Homo sapiens: one gene and its partner. The protein of the gene in region 2 interacts with the protein of the main gene of each other region in a biochemical or structural test. Each region holds a gene or a part of one and is shown on either strand. Other genes may lie near its edges. The genes, in order: MEF2A and ASCL1.

What was found.
Region 1: the proteins of ASCL1 (region 2) and MEF2A form a complex in vitro, tested with the Homo sapiens proteins (one study listed by BioGRID).

The regions. Positions count from the first base shown.
Region 1 is NC_000015.10:99,636,644-99,649,313, reverse strand, and holds part of MEF2A (myocyte-specific enhancer factor 2A), read right to left. Parts: intron 3,754-12,670; coding exon 3,550-3,753; intron 1-3,549. UniProt on the Homo sapiens protein: Transcriptional activator which binds specifically to the MEF2 element, 5'-YTA[AT](4)TAR-3', found in numerous muscle-specific genes. Also involved in the activation of numerous growth factor- and stress-induced genes.
Region 2 is NC_000012.12:102,953,163-102,962,287, reverse strand, and holds ASCL1 (achaete-scute homolog 1), read right to left. Parts: upstream 4,615-9,125; 5' UTR 4,044-4,614; coding exon 3,333-4,043; 3' UTR 3,286-3,332; intron 2,927-3,285; 3' UTR 1,775-2,926; downstream 1-1,774.

The DNA of each region.
Region 1 (12,670 bases), on a different chromosome or scaffold from region 2:
ATGAATCTTACCCTAATGGCAATCTCTTAATTTACTAATGTGTAAGTCTGCTTTATCATATATTCAGCTTTCTTAATGTAGGGGATATATACATCCTCAAGACACTGCAGACCTTAATTTAAAATACCTAAATGCAATTTAAAATATGTAAGTACAAATTAAAAAAATAAACCTGTATAGAATTTTTTAAATTTTATCAACTCTAACCAAAGTTTAAAAAATTGATTAAAATTTTAAATTTAAGAACTAGTTTAAAAACATAATTAATATAAAATGAGGCAGAACAAAGATAGATGGATTTAAGTTTATACATAAAATTGAAACACAGAAAAATAAGAGCACCATTTCTACCTATTTATAATCAACAATATTCAAATACCAACTACTTTTAATACATTATATTAATCTTACAGTACTCCCACAAAACACACTATATCTAACTCCGCAGACCTAATACACGTGCGTCCTGTACTACAGACTACACAGGTGAGGCTGACAGCACATCCTCACAGCACATCCTCAAAGGGCTTGTGTATTGGATGCAACAGAAGAGGAACACATCTAATGAAGACGCCATGTTAATATACTCAAGACTCTGTCAAAGCATATTTCAGTAATATAGGGAAAGTAAAATCCTGCTGATTTTTTAAAGACTAACATATATGCAAACGGAAATATGTGGAGTCAGGTTATAGGCCTTATGGAAGTTGTTGTTTTCAGAGTTTGTGTCATTATTGCTTACATAATGACACAAACTCTTAAGTATATTGGTCATATACTTTAGAAATCACTCTAAAGTAGATCACTTATAACTGTTCATGCCTCTATTTTATCCTGATGTTTTCAACCACATGAGATGGCTAAGGAGTCCAGAAGCTTATCACCAACTTGTTCAAAGTTCTTATAAATATACATAAAATCTTCAGTTGGTAAAAGTATACCTCAATGGTTTATAAAAATATGGGTAGGAAGAATATTCTTCTGGCCTGAATTAGGAATCTCTAAATAAGATCAACTTGCAAAGCACATAGAACCCCCTCAAATCTTTGTCAAATGAGTAAATGGGCATCAAAAAGCCTGCTTCCCATCAATACAACTGCCTGAAAGGAAACTGTGAAAAGGAAAAAATGGTATTCCAAAAATATCCTTCAATGAGGCAACTGTAAAGTACTTTGTAAAAACTAAGACCCATAGGAAGCTCTATGTAAGTAACTTCATTACTGTTATCCTGTAAATTTAATTTGAACCATAGCAAACTGTATAGATGCATTAGCGTAAGCCATTACACTACTGGCAAAAAGAACTCGTATGTGAATTGCACTACTAGTGAAGATGTAGGCTGCATCATCTTCATATGTGAAAAAAGGCCTATCTCACAAGCTTAACAACCACTCTCTTAATAAAAGTTGACTCAGTAAGACATTAATATACAAGAAGTGTGAATTAAGCCTTGTAATTTATCCTACCACAATAAATTAATCCCTAATAATCTAATGTGTCTTCTATCTACTGTATTTATATAATTTAGAACTTCACAAGGAACTATTAACACGATTCATTTTAACTTATTTTGAGGAAATGCAATTAAAAAGAAAACATCAAAATCCCAATATGTAATTGAGCCGCAAAAGTTTTCCTTCATATTGAAACAGACTGTAATATAGGAGACTGCTTAAAAAAATGTTTGGGATCTGCTCTCTTACACTTTGCTGTCCACAACAGAGATGAAGATTGAGGTAGTCTGAAAATTCTATGAGGATTAAATCAGACTACATTCTCCGTATTCTCTAGGGAAGTAAGCTTTAGGCAGTGTGAAGTACCCTCAACCTCCACGGACCAAGAATAACAACTGCTGCAATGAAAGAGCAGTGTAGTTAGGGTTAAGGAGGTGGTTGCCTCTATAATGAAATTAGCTAGAATACTTATTTGCTGACATTATCAAAGTCAGCTCCATTGGTTTGAGTTGAGGCAGTGTAACTTTTGATGAGACATATAGATTTATAAGATAAGAAGCTATTTTAAACACAACAGGGTTACTCTCCATTTCAAGGAAATCCAGTTATGAAGTCTCTTAACAAAGCTTACCTGAATGATACCCTAATTTACAATATTACAATACAAAATGTATTCATGACATGTAATAGGGGAAAGGTCTACTATACAGTATTATAAATAAATGATAACATATAACATAACTGCTAAATAATATAATTTATAAATGACATAAATATAACTGCATTAAGGGGTTTAGCTAAAGATATAACCATGTAGTTTAATCAAAGTTATCAACAAAAGCAAAATAAAAAATTTCATATACAATTCAGGGGAGGTTAACAGCAGTGAGCCCCATAAATAAAACTATGGATAAGTCAAGCAACAGAGATGAGTCCTAGCTGTAATTATGCTATACCTTTACTTCTCATTTGAAAAAATGACTAAAAAGTAACAAAAGCTGTTTTTAAAATACAAGTAATAGTTTTTATGTGTGTAGTAATGGTATCAATCACTGCCTGAAGAGGGACAGTTAAGGCAAAGAAGTATAGGGGAAATTTAAAATGCATTTTCGGAACAATAACAACTTGAGGAGGCAAATAAATTAGATTCCTATACAACAAAACAGCTAAATTATCTTTAATTTTAAATATTAGAAATACCATCTAGATTAGGACTCCATTTGTTCTTTTTCAATTGTTCTACATAATCCTCACATGGTTTCAGTACTTTCACCAAAGAAATGCCTAATACTTTTCTATTACAAACTAAGCCAAAATATGCATCTTTCAAGTAATAAAAAATTCCTCCACTGAATAAATATAAAACCTCCAAATATAAACAAAAGAGACAAAAGTAACTATGAAGCTAATTTAAAATGTGATTAGAAATACACATGGAAAAGTTATCTTATGGAAGATCTTGAAAGAGAGAAGATAAAAAGGGGGAAGCATACTGGTTTCCATTTTGAAGGTTTTATTGTAAAACACTATTTCTGAGAAGATCATTCTAATAATAAATCCTTTTCTTTTTCACTTAATTAGGTTGGGAGAACTATGAGAGCTATCAAATAGGCAGCAGATAAACAAAGAAAATGAGGACTTTCTCCTGTTGCCCAACTAAAACACTATTAACAAAGCAAATATTATTTACATAATTGTCATTGTTTTCTTAAGTGTTTAAAGTTGTGAGCTGTCAATGACATAATGAAATGATTAAGACATACCAAAACTGTAACTTCATACTGTCCAAAAATGATAGTCTCTTACAATATTAATTTTAAAACTCATACAAAATAAGTAATCATAGATGAAATGTTAAGATTATGCTGGTATACATGGTAAAACAACATAGTTTACTTTGTCTGAATGAATAGAGTATGTTTATAACACAAGTGAGTCGCCATACAGCAATCACTCTTCTAAGAAATGATTTAGAGAAAAGATACATATACACCTAATTTATGTTTTAGATGTACAAGTCATTCTGACAGTTAATGCTATTAAACAAAATATTTCAGTATTACTTGCAATTCACGTATTACTAGATATGTGTTACCTCAACAATATCCGAGTTGGTTCTGCTTTCATGAGGTTCATTATATTCTGTATACTTGAGAAGAACTTTGTCCATATCAGTGCTAGCATATTGAAACAGTTTGTTAGAGCTGTTGAAAATGATGAGTGCTATTTCACAGTCACAGAGCACACTAAGTTCATAGGCTTTCTTCATTAATCCAAACTTTCTCTTTGTAAAAGTGACCTAAACAATAAAAAAGGTATATTTTTATTAAAAGCATTAGTAGTACTTGAATATGGGCTATCTGAAGATGAATCTTCTTCTTAATACTGAGCCAGATTTCAAAGATGGAAAAGGTTCCCAGCTTTGTCCTCCATATGAGCCTTCCCTCTCCTGTTGTGCTACAGTCCTACATTTGTTTTGTATATGCCAAGTTCTCCGACAGAGCTGTCTCCTGGGGAAGTATTTCCTTATCCTTGGCTGCCACTCCACTACAGAGGGTGAAGCACCACAGAAGGAACAGTTGATCAGTGTTCCCTTATCATTCAGTTAAAATTGTTACCATCAGAAACCCCAAATCCCAGCCAGGTAATGTAGCATCAGCCAGACTTTGATCCCTAAACAACTAAATACATCCACTAATCTGAAGTATTTCTCCTCCCTCTCAAGCCCTTCTCTATTGTACCCACTGAAATTCACAGTCTGGGATCAGCAAATTCCCCAAAGTCCTCAAATTCTTCTTTAACTGTTTCTTTCTTTAACTGAAACCTGTTACCTGAAATCCTCTCTAACAGAGACCCCCCCAAAAAATTTTTTTATTTACACCCTTTATATTGACTGAAGGCCCTAAAAGAGATGTCTTTTTATGCTCTGTATTCTCTCTTCGACACTACTTTTCTTTCCCTCCCCTTCAAAAACTTCAAATACTCTGAAGCTCATGCCATACAAAAATTATACCACCCAACAACCCTCCTTGGGGTGAGCAAGAGTTACCCTTGATCCCTCTTCTTCTAATACGGGATGGGAAAGGAATGCAAGGGAACTCTCTTTACTTTCTGCTCAATGCTGTTGTGAACCTAAAACTTCTCTAAAACATAAAGTCTGTTTAAAAAACAGTTTTTGAAAGGTCAGTAAGAATATACTTTTGAATAATCTTTGGAATTGTGCAACAACATAAAGTTCAGCAATTTTCCCCATGGATACCTATCATACGATTTTCTTCCTATAAACTTTAACTACTGGCCTAGACTTAAAATCAGTTATTGCAGTAGCTATTAAAGAAGTAGAGGATCTCCAGTATCATGAAAAGCAATTACTACCACTAGAAATTTTTTTCACGGGCATGACTTTAATATCCTCTTTCATTACAGATACAATACGTACATGTAAAAGCAAAACAACAACAAAATTCATTTCACATGTACAATTCAATGATGTTTCTGTATTTTTTCAGTCTATTTCCTATGTAGCATGATAAAATTAAACAGTGGTATAGTAGTTCAATGGTTTTCACTAAATTTAAGCAGAGTATCTGTTTTCTCCCTATAGTAACACCAAATGCATTTAACATCTACTCATCTTAGCATTTAATCACCTTAATCCCTCTTAATTTTATGTAGATCTAATCTCTTTAACAGTCTCAAAACCTTATGTTTTCTCTGTATTTGTCAAGTGCACAAAGCACAATACTCCACGTATTATATGACCGCTCAAATATTCTGTTAGCTAGTAAACTGAATGAAAATAGAGTTGAGAAGGTTCTTTAAATATTCATTTAACAAGAAAATTTAACTAGCCAATACCATCTAGTCTGTTCATGATACATATTTACATGTAAATTGTGTCATATACCCAAATCACCTTTTATGAATCATCTTTGAATACTGGTCTATATTTGATACTTTAAAATTCTCAGCAGGGCACGGTGGCTCACGCCCGTAATCCCAGCACTTTGGGAGGCTGAGGCAGGCGAATCACGAGCTCAGGAGATGGAGACCATCTTGGCTAACACTACGAAACCCCGTCTCTACTAAAAACACAAAAAATTAGCCGGGCGTGGTGGTGGGCGCCTGTAGTCCCACCTACTCGGCAGGCTGAGGCAGGAGAATGGCATGAACACTGGAGGCAGAGCTTGCAGTGAGCCGAGATCGCACCACTGCACTCCAGCCTGGGCGACAGAGCGAGACTCCATCTCAAAAAAAAAAAAAAAAATTCTCAATATAAAACAGAAATTACAAGTAGAAAAACCTCCGCATCTGTTGATGTACTTGTTTTTACAAATACATTTGGGAACAAACAAAAACAAAATAGAATACAATGGAGGAAAGCAATAAGGAAAGGAATGAAAAATACTATCACTTATGACATGAGTATATGCCTAGAAGATTAGATTATAACAAAATATAACAAGTCACAAAGCAAGAAAACAAGCTGTTAAGAGTACATTTTCCCTTGATTTTAGTGTTTTCAGTTCAAAGTAAGTTTTTGGTTGTCATACAGAGATTTTCCTTCTACATACTAGCTTTCTAAGACATCTAAAAGTGAAAAATCAGTAAAAGCCAACTAATTAGTAGAGTGTTAATTAGTATTTTACAATACAGCCACGTTTCAGTTCATAAATTTGACATGAAAGAGGTAACGTAATCTAAAATTAGGCTACAGAATACTAACTACATAATTAAAACTCAAGACTCAACTTTATTATTCTAAGACAATATTTTTAAACTGATTTCAATTACATTAAAATGATGTAAATTCTTTATATTAACTTCAAAAGAAATCACAAAAGTTAGTTTTAAATTCAAAATGGAATAAAGTCATGTTTACTCCTCTCTACTCCTCTAAAAACATGGACACATACATACATACACATACATAATACTAAAAAAGAGACTGGGTTTTCTTCAAGGAAAGTAAGAATCCCTAACTACAAATTTTCATCTGCCAGATTTGGTGAAATTTAGAAGAAAATGAAAGTGGATTCAGAGAATTCACACTGAGTTCTTCACAAAAGTGGCAGTGTCCTCTGAGAGGATCCTCTGATTAGTGCTACAAGATTCACAAGTATCAGAAGCCCATGAAATAAGTGAAGAATCTTGTTCTAAATGTAGAATGCCAGGGAAGGTGAAACCAAAATAAATAAAGAAAATAATTTTATAGGAAAGCTATTTCTGTTAACTCATACTTAATATAATTGCCAAAAACTGTCAGAGATAACAGATCTAAAATGTGAGCTGGTATGGCTCGGAAATGAATGAGAAGAGAAAAAAAATCAAATCATAACAGAGATTTTTAGCACAATAATGAAAATCAAAGAATCAAAACAGAAAACTAAAATGAATAGAAAAAAGTTGTTTGTATTGTTGACAGATAATGAAGATACCAAAAAAGCCCAGAGCATTTAGCAAAGGAAAAATATTTATTAAAAAATAAAATACAGAAAGGCATACAATCTCTCAAAAAAGTGATAAGGAATAATCAAATTCATGGCATATTCAGATTAAGTTACTGAATGTCAAGGTCAAAGAAAGAATACCATGTACACCAAGGAAGGAAGTGAGTGACTTTTAAGAAGGGAAAAAACTCAGTCTGGTGTTAGAATTCTGGCAACATTCAAAGTCAGAAGACCAAATCTCTACGATGTTCTGGGGAAAAGAAATAGGGCCTATACCTAGAACGTTAGACCTAGCCAAGTCAGACTTCAAGTATAAAGACAATAAACATTTTCAAACATAAAAAAACTCAGGAAGTATAACACCTACAAGCCCTTGTTAGGGGCAAAAAAACCAACAAGCATTACTTGCTGAAAAAACAAAAACAAACAAACAAAAAAAACCAGTCATCTGAGTAGAACATAAGTTGAAAAAAGTTCAATGCTGCACGCTCAGCTTCTAAAACAAAGCTACTGTGTGGCAGTGAGGCGGTGCTAAACAAATTTGTTGAATAAATCTGTAAAGGAATAATGAAGAAAAAGTGAGAAACCCCAGAGGGTATGCTGGAAAATGTACGGGGTCAGGGATGTGGAGGCTTGTAGCCTGGAGAAGAAATCGGCCAGTGGGATTATGAGAAGACAAATTTTTTAAGACAGAGTCTCACTCTGTCGCCCAGGCTGGAGTGCAAGTGGCACGATCTCGACTCACTGCAAGCTCCGCCTCCCGAGTTCATGCCGTTCTCCTGCCTCAGCCTCCCGAGTAGCTGGGACTACAGGCACCTGCCACCACGCCTGGCTAATTTTTTGTATTTTTTAGTAGAGACAGGTTTCACCGTGTTAGCCAGGATGGTCTCGATCTCCTGACCTCGTGATCCGCCCGCCTCGGCCTCCCAAAGTGCTGGGATTACAGGTGTGAGCCAACGCGCCCGGCCGAGAAGACAAATTTTTAAAACAGCAGTTTGGGTTCAGCTTGTGCTTCTCACCTCCGCTGCCTGGAACACTCAATGCCTGCTACATCACAAGAGAACTGGCAGCCATGCTGATGCAGACAGACGCCCTCCAGAATGAAACCTGGGCAGTACAAAAGCTCTGCTGGAGATAGGAGTTGAAGACATCAGGTAGAAACTGACTAACCTCTGGCAGGGTGACTTCTCAACCATTCTTACTCAGAACCTCCACGTTTGGTGGATTGCCAGGTAGATGAAATATCTTCTTCCGATGTCCTCTTCCCTGGGGGGCTCTGTGTGGAGCTGCAATCAGAGTTCTTTGCGGACACTATGGCTTTTTCGACGGCTGGGACCCGCTAACCCATTTATATGATCGACTGGGATCACGCAAACTAGTGCAAATACGTGCGAGATCACAGGGAATAAACATCAACTAGACTGGTGGGTTAAGAGATGGATCAAACTAGATAAAAAACCAATATGCAGCCTCTCATACTATCTATAAAAGACATACCTAAAACATAAGGAAACAGTAAGGTTGAAAGATAACACAGAGTTTCAGACCTCCAAGAAAACACTGGCTGGGCGCCGTGGCTCACACTATAATCCCAGCACTTTGGGAGGGCCAGGTGGGAGGATCACTTGAGCTCAGGAGTTCAAGACCAGTCTGGGCAACATGGTGAGACCTCACCTCTGCAAAAAGTACAAAAATTAGCCAGGCATGGTGCGCATACCCATGTTACTCTGGAGGCTGAAGCAGGAGGATTGCTTGAGCACAGGAGGTCAAGGCTGCAGTGAGCCATGATCATGCCAATGCACTCTGGCCTGGGTGACAGAGCAAGACCCTGTCTCAAAAAAAAAAAAAAAGAAAAGAAAGAAAAGAGGGGAGGGGAGAAAGGGAGTGAAGGAGGGAGAGAGGGAGGAAGGAAGGAAAAGAAAAAAAGAAAAGGAAAGGAAGAAATATGTAGCTATATCAAGGTGAGGTAAGGTAGATTTAAGACAAACATGCCTTACTGAGGATAAAGATGGTCAATATGTATTGCAAAATTTGCCAAGAAGGTACATCACCTCTAAATATGTGCAAGCCTAACGAAATAGTCCCAAAATGTATAAAACAGTATTATTAAATCAATAAAATATACAGAGAAATTGACAAATCCACCATTGTGGTACATACAATTATTGATAAGTCTCAATGAACAAAAAACAAAAAGTCACAAAGAATACGGAAGGTTAGAACACAACAATGAGAGTTATCTGAAAGATATATGGAGATGCATGCATCCAACAATCAAAGAATACATATTTACCCAACTCCATTCGGAACATTTAAAAAAACCAATCTTGATTTAGGAAATAAAGCAAGTCTTAACACACTTAAAAAGGCTCACAATCTACTGAAATAAGGGCAATATACAACACTATGGTAAGTCCCGTCATAAAAGTGTTTACAAAGTGTTTTGGTAAAGACTGAAAGATACTATCTGAAACAGAGACAATACATACAGAATTAATATCCAGAATATGTAAAGAACTTCTAAGAGAAAAAAACCAAAACCAACAACCCAGCACAAAATAAGCAAACCACAAAAACAGGTTGCATTTCACTTTCCTAAGACCAGAAAAAAGAATAAAATAAAATTTAAAAAGGGACAAAGACAGAAAAAATAGAAAAGAAAGGCAGACAAGACAGAAAGAAGGAAAGGCAAAGTATATGGGCAAATAGGAATTATCATACAAACTTACTGCAGTGTAGCTAGTACAATCACTTTGGAAAGCAACTTGAAAACATGGTAAAGCTGATGATGGACATACTCAGCCTAGCAATTCCTTCTGAAACTATCACAGAGCAACTTTTACCCATGTATAATGAGACAGGTCAACAGATGTATACTGCAACACCATTTATAACAGTAAAAAATTAGAAACAACATAGTTGTTCTTTGATAGAAGTATTGATGAATTAAGAATATTTATTCCTAAAACTAGCTGTATTGAATGAGAGCAGATGGATCTCAAAACACTACACTGAGTGAAAAAGCAAGTGCAAATGAAAACGTCACTATGTAAAACTTTAAACCCATGTTGAAACAATATTAAATAATACCTGTTAAAAAATATAAAGAAAACACAATGTAAATTCATGATAGTGGTTATGAGAAGGAAAGTAGGAAGAGACCAGGAAAAATTATAAAGAGGACAGTAAATCTCTAATTTTTTTCACTTTATGAATAAAAATAAAAATACATATAACAAATGTGTCAGCACTGACATATGTTACTTCTGGATAATGAATATAGCAAACCTTGAAGTATCGTTCTCTGTACTCTACCTTTGGAACCTTTGGAAAAAACTTTTATTTTTAAACTGCTTTCTTTCTTTTTTTTAAGTATATGAGGATGTCTGCTTTTAGGTTAGAGGGAGTAGTTGTTGGAAGACCAAAGAACCCACTGAAATCAACTAGTAAAACAGGATGAAATACAACAAATACCTCTTTAAAGACATCAGAAAGCTGCTAAAGCAGGAAGACTGGAGATGCTAAGATTCTATAATCTCTTTCACATACAAGGTCTGAAGGCTCATTAAAAACCACTAGACATGTCAAAAGACTGCATCGTATAATTGAGAACAAAGAGAAAAAGGGATCAGATATGGACTTACAGGTAATCCAGATATAGCTATTCACAGACATGAACTTAAAGATAACTATGGCTAATATTTAAAAAAAAGCTTAAAAATGGAGAAAATGGATGACAAGATGGGCCATTTCCATAAAAATGAAAAATCAAAAAATTCTAGAATTGAAACTATATTATCAGAAATTAAGAACGTACTAGGCTGTTTTATCAGTTAATTTTAAAAAGCAGGAGAAAGGCTTACTAGAAAATAGATTGCTAGAAAATAACTAGAAAACATTCAAACTGAAGTACAGAGAAAAAAAGAGTAAAAAATACAGGAGGACAAAATACATAAGAAATGTATGGGATACAAAACCGTTATATGTAACTAGAATCCCAGAGAAGGAAAAAAATGGGACACAAGCAATATCTGAAGACACATGCCCCTTGTGGGTCCATCACAGTAAAAATGTATATTAACAAAGGAAAAGCAAAAGGCTTTAAAGCAACAAAAGAAAAGAAAGACACATTATCTTTAAAAAAAAAATTTTTTTTAAGATCAAAAGCTGGCCTCTTAACAGAAATGAATGGAAGTTGGAAGACAACTGCTTCAAAGTACTAAGAGAATAAAACTGCCAATCTAGAATTCTACAACCAATAAAAACAGCTTTCAAAATGATCATACAACTAAAAAACAATTAAAAATTATGCAAAGGATTTGAATAGACATTTTTCCAAGGAAGATATACAAATGTCCAATAAGCACATGAAAAGATGTTCAACATCATTAGCCATCAGAGAAATGCAAACTAAAACCACAAGATACCAGTTTATACCCATCAGGATGGCTACAATAAAAAAGACAGGGCTGGGGGCGGTGGCTCACGCCTGTGATTCCAACACTTTGGGAGGCCGAGGCGGGCAGATCACGAGGTCAGGAGATCAAGACCATCCTGGCTGACACCATGAAACCCCGTCTCTACTAAAAATACAAAAAAATTAGCCGGGCGTGGTGGCAGGCGCCTGTAATCCCAGCTACTCAGGAGGCTGAGGCAGAAGAATGGCACGAACCCGGGAGGCGGAGCTTGCAGTGAGCCGACAGCGTGCCACTGCACTCCATCCTGGGCGACAGAGCGAGACTCCGTCTTACACAGAAAAAAAAAAAAAGACAGACAATAACAAGTGTTGGCTGGGATGTGGAAAACTTAGAATGCTGACACATGGCAGGCAGAAAGCAAAATGGTGCAGCCACTTTGGCAGTCTGGCATTTCCCAAAATGTTAAACTTAAGAGTTACCATGTCATCTAGCAATTCTTAAGTATACTTTTATATACTTAGCAGCAAATATGCAGAAAATAAAATTTGAGAAGAAATGTTAATAATGCTTTAGAAAATCAAATATCTACTAATAAATATAACAAAAATGTAGAAGACTTATTTTGAAAACTATCAGCCATTATGGAGAGAATTAATGAAAACCAAATGAAATACAAACATGTTCATAGATTACAAGACTTGACACTGTAAAGATTTCAATTCTCCCTAAATAGATCCCTACATCCAGTGGAAAAAAAATATCTAAATTCCAGTAGGTTTTTTGTTTTCTTAAGTGAACAATGACACTTGGTTTCATTTGGATATTCTGAAAAAGGGCAAGAATAGTCAGCTGGTTCTGAGAAAAAAAAAAAAAAGGTGCAGAACTACACCACCAGATATCAAATTATAGTAATTAAAACAGTGCAGAATTAAGCAAGGATATACAAATAATCAAATGGAACAAAACAGAGAATTTAGAAACAGTTTCACACACATATGGTTACTCGACTCATGATAAAGGCAACCCTGTCATATAGTGAGGAAAGGATGGTTTTATGCAATAAATTGTACTGGGACAACTAAATATCCATCTGGAAAATAACAAATCCTGACCCCTACACCTCAAACCAAACACAAAAATAAACACCAAATGGATAACAGGTCTAAAACATGAAAGGTTAAAAAAAAAGAGTCCTTACAGAAGAAAGCATAGAAGAATATCTTTATGGCCTTATGGTAAGTAAAGATTTCTTAAACGTGACACAAAAGGCACTACTCATAAAGGAAAGGGAAAAAAAGGTAAATGGGAAACCATTAAAATATTATTGATTTTTTAAAACATTAAGAAA
Region 2 (9,125 bases):
GGGCCGCTCCAAAGCCCGCCGCGCAGCCAATGGGCAGCGGTGATTTATGGAGCTGACTAACGCGCGCTGAATGCGGCCTGTCAGAGCTCTGTGAATGGCTTCCCTTCGCCGCACAAGCCCCGGCTTTGTGTTGCTAAGCGATTAGAGCAGATGTAATGAGATTTTGCCCAATCCTCGCTTTGCCCTTTCCTAGCTTAGGCAAAATTGTGTGTGTTTTTGTGAATTTTTCGAGTTTGCCTTCGCATTGTGGCAAACAACGACTAACTTTGCCTCGAGTTTAACGAGACTGGATATTTCCCATTCAGAAGTGAGTAAAGAACACCTGTCCTCACAGGAGAAGGAAAAAAAAATCCCCCTTTGTGGGGGCTGAAACATTATCCTAATGTTATATTCATAGCCATAAATGACTTGCTACACTTTCTTTGCATACCTTATCTGGAATCTTGCAAAGGAGCTAAATTAAAGGAAAGAGAAATGGAGAGTGGGGGTGGAGCCCATCTCTGGTCCTCCAAATGAGAAGATAAAAATAAAAGCAGGCATCACAAAAGCATTACTTCTCTCAAGTAAGCTCTAAATTGGCCCACTGCTGGCAGAAAGTCCGATTATTTATGGCGATGAGGAATTTACTGATTTTTTTTCCTTAATTACGCTCATCTCTTTGAAAGGGACTGAAGCCTCAATGTGCATTCTATAGAGGGTCATTTAGCAAAATGACATCAGACGCTGTGGCGTGCTCCGCGCATCGTGGCTTTAAAAAATGATTATTCTGTGCCACTAAATGGTATAGATGTACCAACACAGACTAGATTTTTAACTCTGGAAGACGTGCTGGCTACCCGTTCTTTGTTGGGTTTTGTAAGATGCATTTTGCGCTCGGCTTTCCGCTTGGCTGGAGACACGCAAACTGAATCTGCAAGTAATGCAGGCGGCGAGCGAGGAGCCGGCGAGAGGCCGAGTAGGATTCTAATCACGTCCTTGCTAACTGACAAGAAGCAAGCCAGCCAAAAACCCACCAATTTCTTTTTGAATCTTGGTAATTGGGTACTTTTACACGCAGCTCACGCTATTCGGATAGAGTCACAAGCTTAGATAGACCAGTGTCTCAAAGCGACCACACATTTCTAATGCGTTTTTTTAATTAAAATCTCAATCCGTTTGGAATGAATTCATATCATATATGCCTCTTACTTAAAATCAATATAGCAAGTAGGTGTATTGGAGAAAATGAGTAGAAAATGTATGCCTGGAAGTGAGGGAAGAGAAACATACTCACCACTAGGAGCTTGTATGTGGAGAGGGATGCCTCTCCAACCCCCATCCCAGAACCACCATCCTCCCCACCCAGACCTAGTCTCCATTATTTCATCCAGCCCCACCATAGTTTCACAGGGAGAAACTCAGAATGGAGTTGAGAATTGGAAAATGGTGGAGGACCCTCTCTTTCTGGTTCACTTTTTTGGGGGATTTTAAATTTTGATCAAAGGATAATGCAGCCATCTATTCTTTTTGGTGGGCATGTACATTTGCAGCATAGGATAGAAAGAAAACATATATACATGTACATACACACACACACACACACACACACAAACACACACTCATTCATCATAAAGAAACCATTTGGATGGGACTGGCCATAGCACTTATCATTGTCATTTCTGCCACTTAGCATGTTTTGCAACATTTTCTTCTCCATCCACCTCTTCCCTTTGACATTTTCATAAAACTGGACCAGGGGCATCAGAGTCAAAGAAAGCTTAGAGTCAGCTGATTATTTTCATTTTAAAAAAAGGAAAAAGTTTTATTACGAAACTAGTTTGTATAAAACAGGGTTATACATATTTTTGTAAGTTTGTAATAAAACAGTAAGAAAAAAAAAGGCAGTAATAGAAATCTCCAAAAGGCAACCTATCAAAACCAACTGGCTGCCACTTTGAGTTTGGACAGTAGCTGCATAAACTTTGTTCTTCTTGAACAGTATTTAATAACATCATTAATACATTAACAACATTTCTATAAAGTAAGACACATTGGTGCTGAAGTACAACTGGTGGCCTCTTGATCTCACCTATGAGGAGAGTTCTTTACAAAACCACATAGGGAAAATTGCAGTTGTAAGGTGAACTACACATCTAAAATATGCAGAGGTAATAGCATTACATGTTAAAGTATCAAGATATACACATTTTAAACCATTTGTACAAAACTTCTATAAATTTTTCTCTCTCTTTCTCTCTTATGTACAAAAATATCTTAATATATCCCCGAACTGGTTAGGATAGATACAAATAGATTTTTTATAATAAAAAATTCACAAAAGATTGGAAGCATTCTATAATGAAAATGGTAGAAAAGACAGTGTGAGGGAAGCCATGGGGTTTGGGAATCGGGCCCTGGAGGAGAAGCAGAGTTTCAAAGGGCTGAGAATAGCATAGTTTCACTGTAAACCAATGTCTACAGCTTATTGGGGTGGGGGCTACTGAGACGAAAGACACCAACTCGTTTCTAGAGGGCTAAGAACTGCACTTTAAGAAAGGGCGAGGAGGTGAAGGGACCCGAGCAAGAACTTTCAGCTGTGCGTGTTAGAGGTGATGGGAGTTACTATAACGCGTGTGCTGCTCCCTTCTGCCAGGAGCCCACTGCTTTTGCACACAAGCTGCATTTTGCGCATTGACTCAGGTCCCAGTTGCTCTTCATATCTCCGTGAATGATTGGAGTGCAAAGATACTGTTCTGAGCGCTTCCCGTTTTCTGAAAGCCATGTCTCTCAGGCATGCCTCGCTTAGTTGGCGATGGGGTTGGTTGACTGTTTTCGTTTTTTTCTTCTTCTCTTTTCTTCTTCTTCTTCTTTTTTTTTTCTTTTCCTTTTCTCCCCCTCCCAACGCCACTGACAAGAAAGCACTAAAGATGCAGGTTGTGCGATCACCCTATAACATAAGGAAAAGAACAGGAGAGGTTAATTTGAACGTGTAGGCTAGTGGTAGAGGGAGATGGAGGTCTGGGGAAAGAGTCTGTCAGGTAGACATCTCTTTTAACATGTCCCAGTATTCGGTTCACCAGTATCTCTGCACCTCACTACTACCCTTCACTCCTTGGAGACCTGGGCAAGGCCATTTTCAGAGGCCAGTGCTGAAACTAACAAACTAGGACTTGAAATCGACCAACTTTCACAAATTCTTTAAATAAAAATCCCCTTATCTCCTTGGAGACATCCCCACTTCCACAGACACTCAGAGGGAGGACGAAGGCAAGAATACCCCCCTGCCCACCCCAAAATGCAACCTACCTGCTTCCAAAGTCCATTCGCACCAGGGCCTGACCAGGCCGAGCCCCTCAGAACCAGTTGGTGAAGTCGAGAAGCTCCTGCTCCTCGGGGCTGAGCGGGTCGTAAGAGCCCTCGTCCGACGAGTAGGATGAGACCGGCGAGCCGGCCATGGAGTTCAAGTCGTTGGAGTAGTTGGGGGAGATGGTGGGCGACAGGACGCCTGCCTGGAAGGCGGCGCTCACCGCGTCATGCTCGTCCAGCAGCTGCTGCAGCGCGCGGATGTACTCGACCGCCGAGCGCAGTGTCTCCACCTTACTCATCTTCTTGTTGGCCGCGCCGTTGGGGACGTGCTCCCGAAGGGTGGCAAAGCCCAGGTTGACCAACTTGACGCGGTTGCGCTCGCGCTCGTTGCGGCGCGCCACGGCGGCCGGCTGCTGCTGCGGCAGGCTGTAGCCAAAGCCGCTGAAGTTGAGCCGGCGTTTGCAGCGCATCAGTTCGGGCGAAGACGAGCGCTGTCGCTTGACTTGCTTGGGCGCTGACTTGTGACCGCCCCCTGAGGGCTGGCCGTCGGCCGCCGGTCTCAGCTGCGGCGCCTGCTGCTGCTGCTGCTGCTGCTGCTGCTGCTGCTGCGCGCTCTGCGCTGCCGCTGCGGCGGCTGCGGCCGCCGCGGCTGCGGCCGTGGCAAAGAAACAGGCTGCGGGCGGCAGGAAGGGCTGCTGGGGCTGCGGCTGGGGCTGCTGGCCGGCGCCGCCGCTCTCCATCTTGGCAGAGCTTTCCATGCGCAGCGGCGGCCAAGGAGTCGCGGAATCAGAGCGATCCGGGACGCGAGGTGCGGGGCCCGCGAGGGGGACACAGAGAGAACTTGGGTGCAGGAACAGAGAGGGAAAGAAAAGGAAATATGAAGCGGGAGCCCTGACGGAAGTTAAAAAATATATACAAAATCCCCGGGAGACTTCTTAGAGTGGGAGCAAAAAAAGTGAAAATGCTTTTTCTCCTCCCTGCACGCCGCCTCCTCCTCCCTCCCCTCCTCCCTTCGCGGGTTGGCTTCGGGAGCCTCGCGTGGCGCTCGCGTGTGAGGCTGCCGCTGGCGCCTTCTTGTTTCTAAGAAAAAAAAAAGCAGAAGCAGCAGCAAAAGTCAGTGCTGAACGCGCTCTGCCGCGTCTCGCGTTCCTCTCCTACTAAGGCTGCGCTCTCTTGCGCCGGGTCTCGGTCTCTCCAGCCGTGGCTCAGGCTGTTTTTATTATTTTGTTAACTCCCTTCCTTTCTGATTTCCTTCTTTCACTCGCCCTCCCTGGCCGGATCCCTGTCGGTGCGCCTTCCACGTTCCCTGGCCAGAAGTGAGAGAGTGCTGGGCTGCCGGAGTGCGTCCGCCTTTTCAATGGGACACCCAGCCCCACGCGCAGCCCTGGCCCCGCCTCGCCCCCCACTCCCCGCTGCTGCAGCGAGCGGCTGCAGCCCCCACTCCCCCCCCTCCTCTTACCTCTTCCTCCCACCCACTCCCTAAACTCCCCCTCCTCCTCTCCTCTCCCCCCCTCCCGTTCCTTTCTCCCGCTCCTTGCAAACTCTCCATTCAGCTGGGTTTGTTGTTGCAGTGCGTGCGCCTGGCGCGTGCCGGACTCCCGGCTGAATAAACAGGCGGCGCGCTCGGGGCGGGCTGCTGCCGGGGGTGGCTTTAGGAAGGGGGTGGGGGGCGTCACAGGAGGGACAAATGGCTCTAGGAATTGAGGTGTATAGGTGGAAAGACTTGGGGTGAAGCTCTCTTGGATTCTACTAAGAACTTGAAGCAAAGCGCAGGGAAGGGTTTGGGCAGAAAAAATGGCACAGGAACGGTGTGGAGGTGAGGAGGGAGTGGGGCTCGACTTTTCCTGTTTTCTCTCTCTCCTCACTGTTATTCTCTTCGGGTTCCTCGGTGACCCTAGAAATTGGAGCAAATTACGATTGAAGTTTAGAAACATGGTTGGGGGAGGGACTCCGTCCAGAACAGTGAAAAAAAGTGCTGGACTATGTGAAAACGTGGGTTCTAGTCCCAAGGCGTCCTCTCAATGCTCTGTGGCTCCTCGAAGTGGCATCCTCTCTGAGCCTTCGCTTCCTCGTCTGCAGCCACAGAATATGGTCTCTAATGTCCCATTCAGCTCTAAAAACTAGGATGTGCTCCCCATAACTGAGCAAGTGTGTGGGGGGCCGCGGGGAAGCGACACCGAGGAGTGGTTGTGAGCCGTCCTGTAGGTGGGTGTATATGGCAGGGACGTCCCCCTAGGATGACCTCTGGCCCCCTGTACCATCGCCCCCTACCGCCACCCCCTCCCCATAAAGATTATTTCCGGACCAGCTTAGCGGATATCATAAAGAAGGGAGTGCTCTGGGATACTCCCAGACCCTCGGAGAAGAAAGATGCGGGGCGGGGGTTGAGTGATGGCGCTTAGGGCACTGGTGGGGATTCCTGGTTCTTCGGCGCCGCCGCGGGCACCTCGGCGGCCTTGGCGCAGCCACCATCCCGCCCCAGGCGTGTGCCCGGCGGCCCGGTGGCAGGCGACTGGGAGCGGAGCCCGGCGGGGCCGCGTGCTGGCGCCGAGAGGGAGGGGGAGGCGCTTGCAGCCGTCGCTCGACCGCTTGGACAGCGCCTGCCCAGGCGTCCTTCCTGGGCCTTCGGCCCTGGCGCTCTCTGGCCAGAACCCCGTCCAGCTTCAGGACGTCTGGGGACGCGGCGCTGCGGAGAAAGCAGACCAAGCAATAGGCCCCATCTCTTTAAGGATCTGGTCCGGAGAGAGGCTGGGGCATGTCTCAGGTCTTGTCTACATAGGCAGAACGAAGTGGAGGGCAATCATCCATTTGATTTTCCAGTAGAAATAATCCGAGATCTGGGTGCAGGAATGATTGTGGTGAATTATCCGGATAATTGGTTCTAATTGAACTCCCCTTTGTGGAGGTGGATCTTTCTAAAGGGCCAAGGGGATGACCCAGGGAGCTGCTCTTGGTATGTGGGCTGGCTGAGTGTTTCTGGAACAATAGTGATGATGGTGGGCAGTAATGACGGGCGGCTCCCGAAGTGAATCACCTCTCTTCTCTACCTCAGTTTCATCTTTGCAGAATAGGTAGGCTTCAGAGGTATAGGACCAAATCGTGCCAACAGAGGTCAATTCTGTAACCTTTCCCAGCCACACAGCCCCTTCTCCCCATGGTAACCTGTGGCTTGATGGCCTCACAGGACTGGCTGAACCCCGTGGGATTCACACCTCAGGCCTTTCTCCACATCCCTGACCAAGGAAAGGGCCTAAGAGGTCTCTGGAAGTATAGGAGGTGAGCACCCAAAAGCAGAGTCACAACACAGCCTGGGCACCCTGCACCTCCCAGCCAGAGTAAGCCTCAGACCACTTGCAGAAATAGGAATTATTCAGGCACTCCTTACCCACCTCCCACATGACCCAGCTGTGTCCTAATGCCCCATTCACTCTATTTCAGCCAAATAGTTGAGTGTTGGGGGTGGGAGGGAGTGTCGCAAATGTGGAAGCATCTAGATGTGTTTTCTTTTACATTAAGCTGAAACATGAGCCCCAAACTCCCTACTAACTTGGACTCACTTCACAAAGGTCCCGAGTCTGAGCTCTACCACAATGGTGCCTTATAACCTTGAACAAGTCCCTCTGCCTCTACTGGCCTCAGTTTTCTGATCTACACACAAGGGATGTACAGTAGCTAATTTTGAAACTTGTATCTAACAGCTTAGAAAATTTGCTGGTAGCCAGCACGTGTTTCCTTTTCCAGGATGCATACACAGAGATCTCAATACCAGGGAAGTAGAGGACAGAACCTCCTCTCCTCCTCCCCCCTACACACACCATGAAATGGGTGCCCAAATGGAGTGGAAGTGCATTGTAGTGAAGAAGCCTTGTCTTGTAGTGGCCTTACTCATTGGCCTCAGGCCAGGAGGAAGGACAGTCGTTGCTGGGATCCTTCTGGCCAAAACCGCCAGAACATTTGTCTCTATTCTCCCTATGCCAGCCCTGAGCCTGACCTCACTCTTCTCACCCTAGTATGCTAAGTTTTCTTCCTTACATGCTTTGCAAAGCCTTCCAAGAACCGAGGCGTTCTCCTCCCCCCACTCAAGTAAACCTGGAGTTTGCACCTCAACACTGTCATCTCCACTTTCTCCTCCAACCCTAGGGTAGAACAGTCTATAATTTTTCTTTAGAGGTTTGCATTTCTATCCTTGGGGATTCTACCAAGAGAGTTTTCCATTGATATTGGCTTTCTGGTTGTTTTCACCAGTGTGAAGCAAAAGATGGGAGGCTCAGGAGCCAAAATTAGAATCCTGCCTCTGACTGTGTGACCTAGATTATAATCCCTCCTCCCGACCTGAGAGAACTGGCCACATGTTCTGCTCTCCTAGGCCCATGGAATTCCAGATAAAGCAGGCTGATTTGACTTGGTATCTAGGCCCCTTTACCTGAGAGCTGTGTGACCCTGAGACACTCTAGGGGTCTCTATTTCACCTATGCCAGTAATTATAGTATCTACCTCCAAGAGTTGTGAGACTTCAATGATATGTATGTAGAGCACTCTAGCCCAGGTCTAAAGAGAAAGGGATTAATAAGAAAGTCATGCTCACACAACCCACCCAGGAAAGGGTGTGTGGCAGGAGGAGCCTCAGCACTTGGCTTCCTGGAACCACTCTGTGATCATCACTCCAGCCAATGGAGATCCAGTGCCACTCTGTCTCACTGTCCCAGCACCTAGGGGTGAGTCATTCCTGTCATTTTTGAGAAATGGTGGTGATACTGGCATATTAAGATGATGGAGATAGTAACCCGATTTTTAGACATGAAAAGTAGCAAGTAAGATAGACTATAGAGATGTTCTGTGGCCTCCACATGCAAGGGGCTTCAGCAGAGCCACTGGGCCCTGCTTTCTTGGCTCCCTTGCCACACAGTGGGCCTGATTCTGAGCAAGTCCTTAGGGCTTTAGTTGGCTAAGACACTTGAACAATGTCCCATTTATCTTCACATGAAGGGAGAAGTAAACAACTCACAAAAGGAAGGTTTGATACCTTCATTCATAAATGAGGTGGTAGTACTCCCTTTGCCTGTATGTCAAGGGTGTTATGAGAATTAAATCAGATGTTGTTGGGTAATTTGCTTTGCAAGTCTCTCCACATATCAGAGATTGCCTTTTCACTTTTTCCGAATAGCAGCATTCAGTGTTCTGTCTTGTCATGAGGGTGGGGGAGTGGGAAGGACAAAGCACTGATCCCCTTTGGTGAGTATCACCCAGAGTACAGACATTGCAGAAAGATAAGAAGGCTTCTCTTTCTCCTCCAATACAATAAGGGACTTAATTTCTGCACCTTCAGACCCCTTTCCTATATCAGAACACTCTGGAGCTGAACCATACTTCAGATTAGACTTTATCTTCATTCAGCATCAGGATCTGTAGGGGGAGATGGCTTTCCTAGTGGCCAAAGGGGTCTGCTGCCCTGAGATCAGAGACCCTGTGCCCTGAGTCTCCTGCCACCTTAATTTCCATTCACAGCTGAAGGCCAGGCCAGTACCACCTTTGCTGAAGCTCAAGACCTATGTATGTTCTCTTGATTGTGTGTTGTCTCTCTGTAAAAAGAAGATATGACTCATCTCTTTGAAAACCAATTTATGCTTTCTCTTTGGGGAGAGGGATTGATATTAAAAGTGAAACTAGGATTTTCATTGGACAAATAATTTAATAAAGTTATATTTTTAACTTTAGTTAGATTCTGAATCAGGGGCAAAGGGAATACAAAGATGAACACAAGTCTTGGATTCTGGATTTTGTTACAGGATTTTAAGTGTAATCCTCAATTTGGGGGTGACTTGAGTTCCAGAAGCAATGGA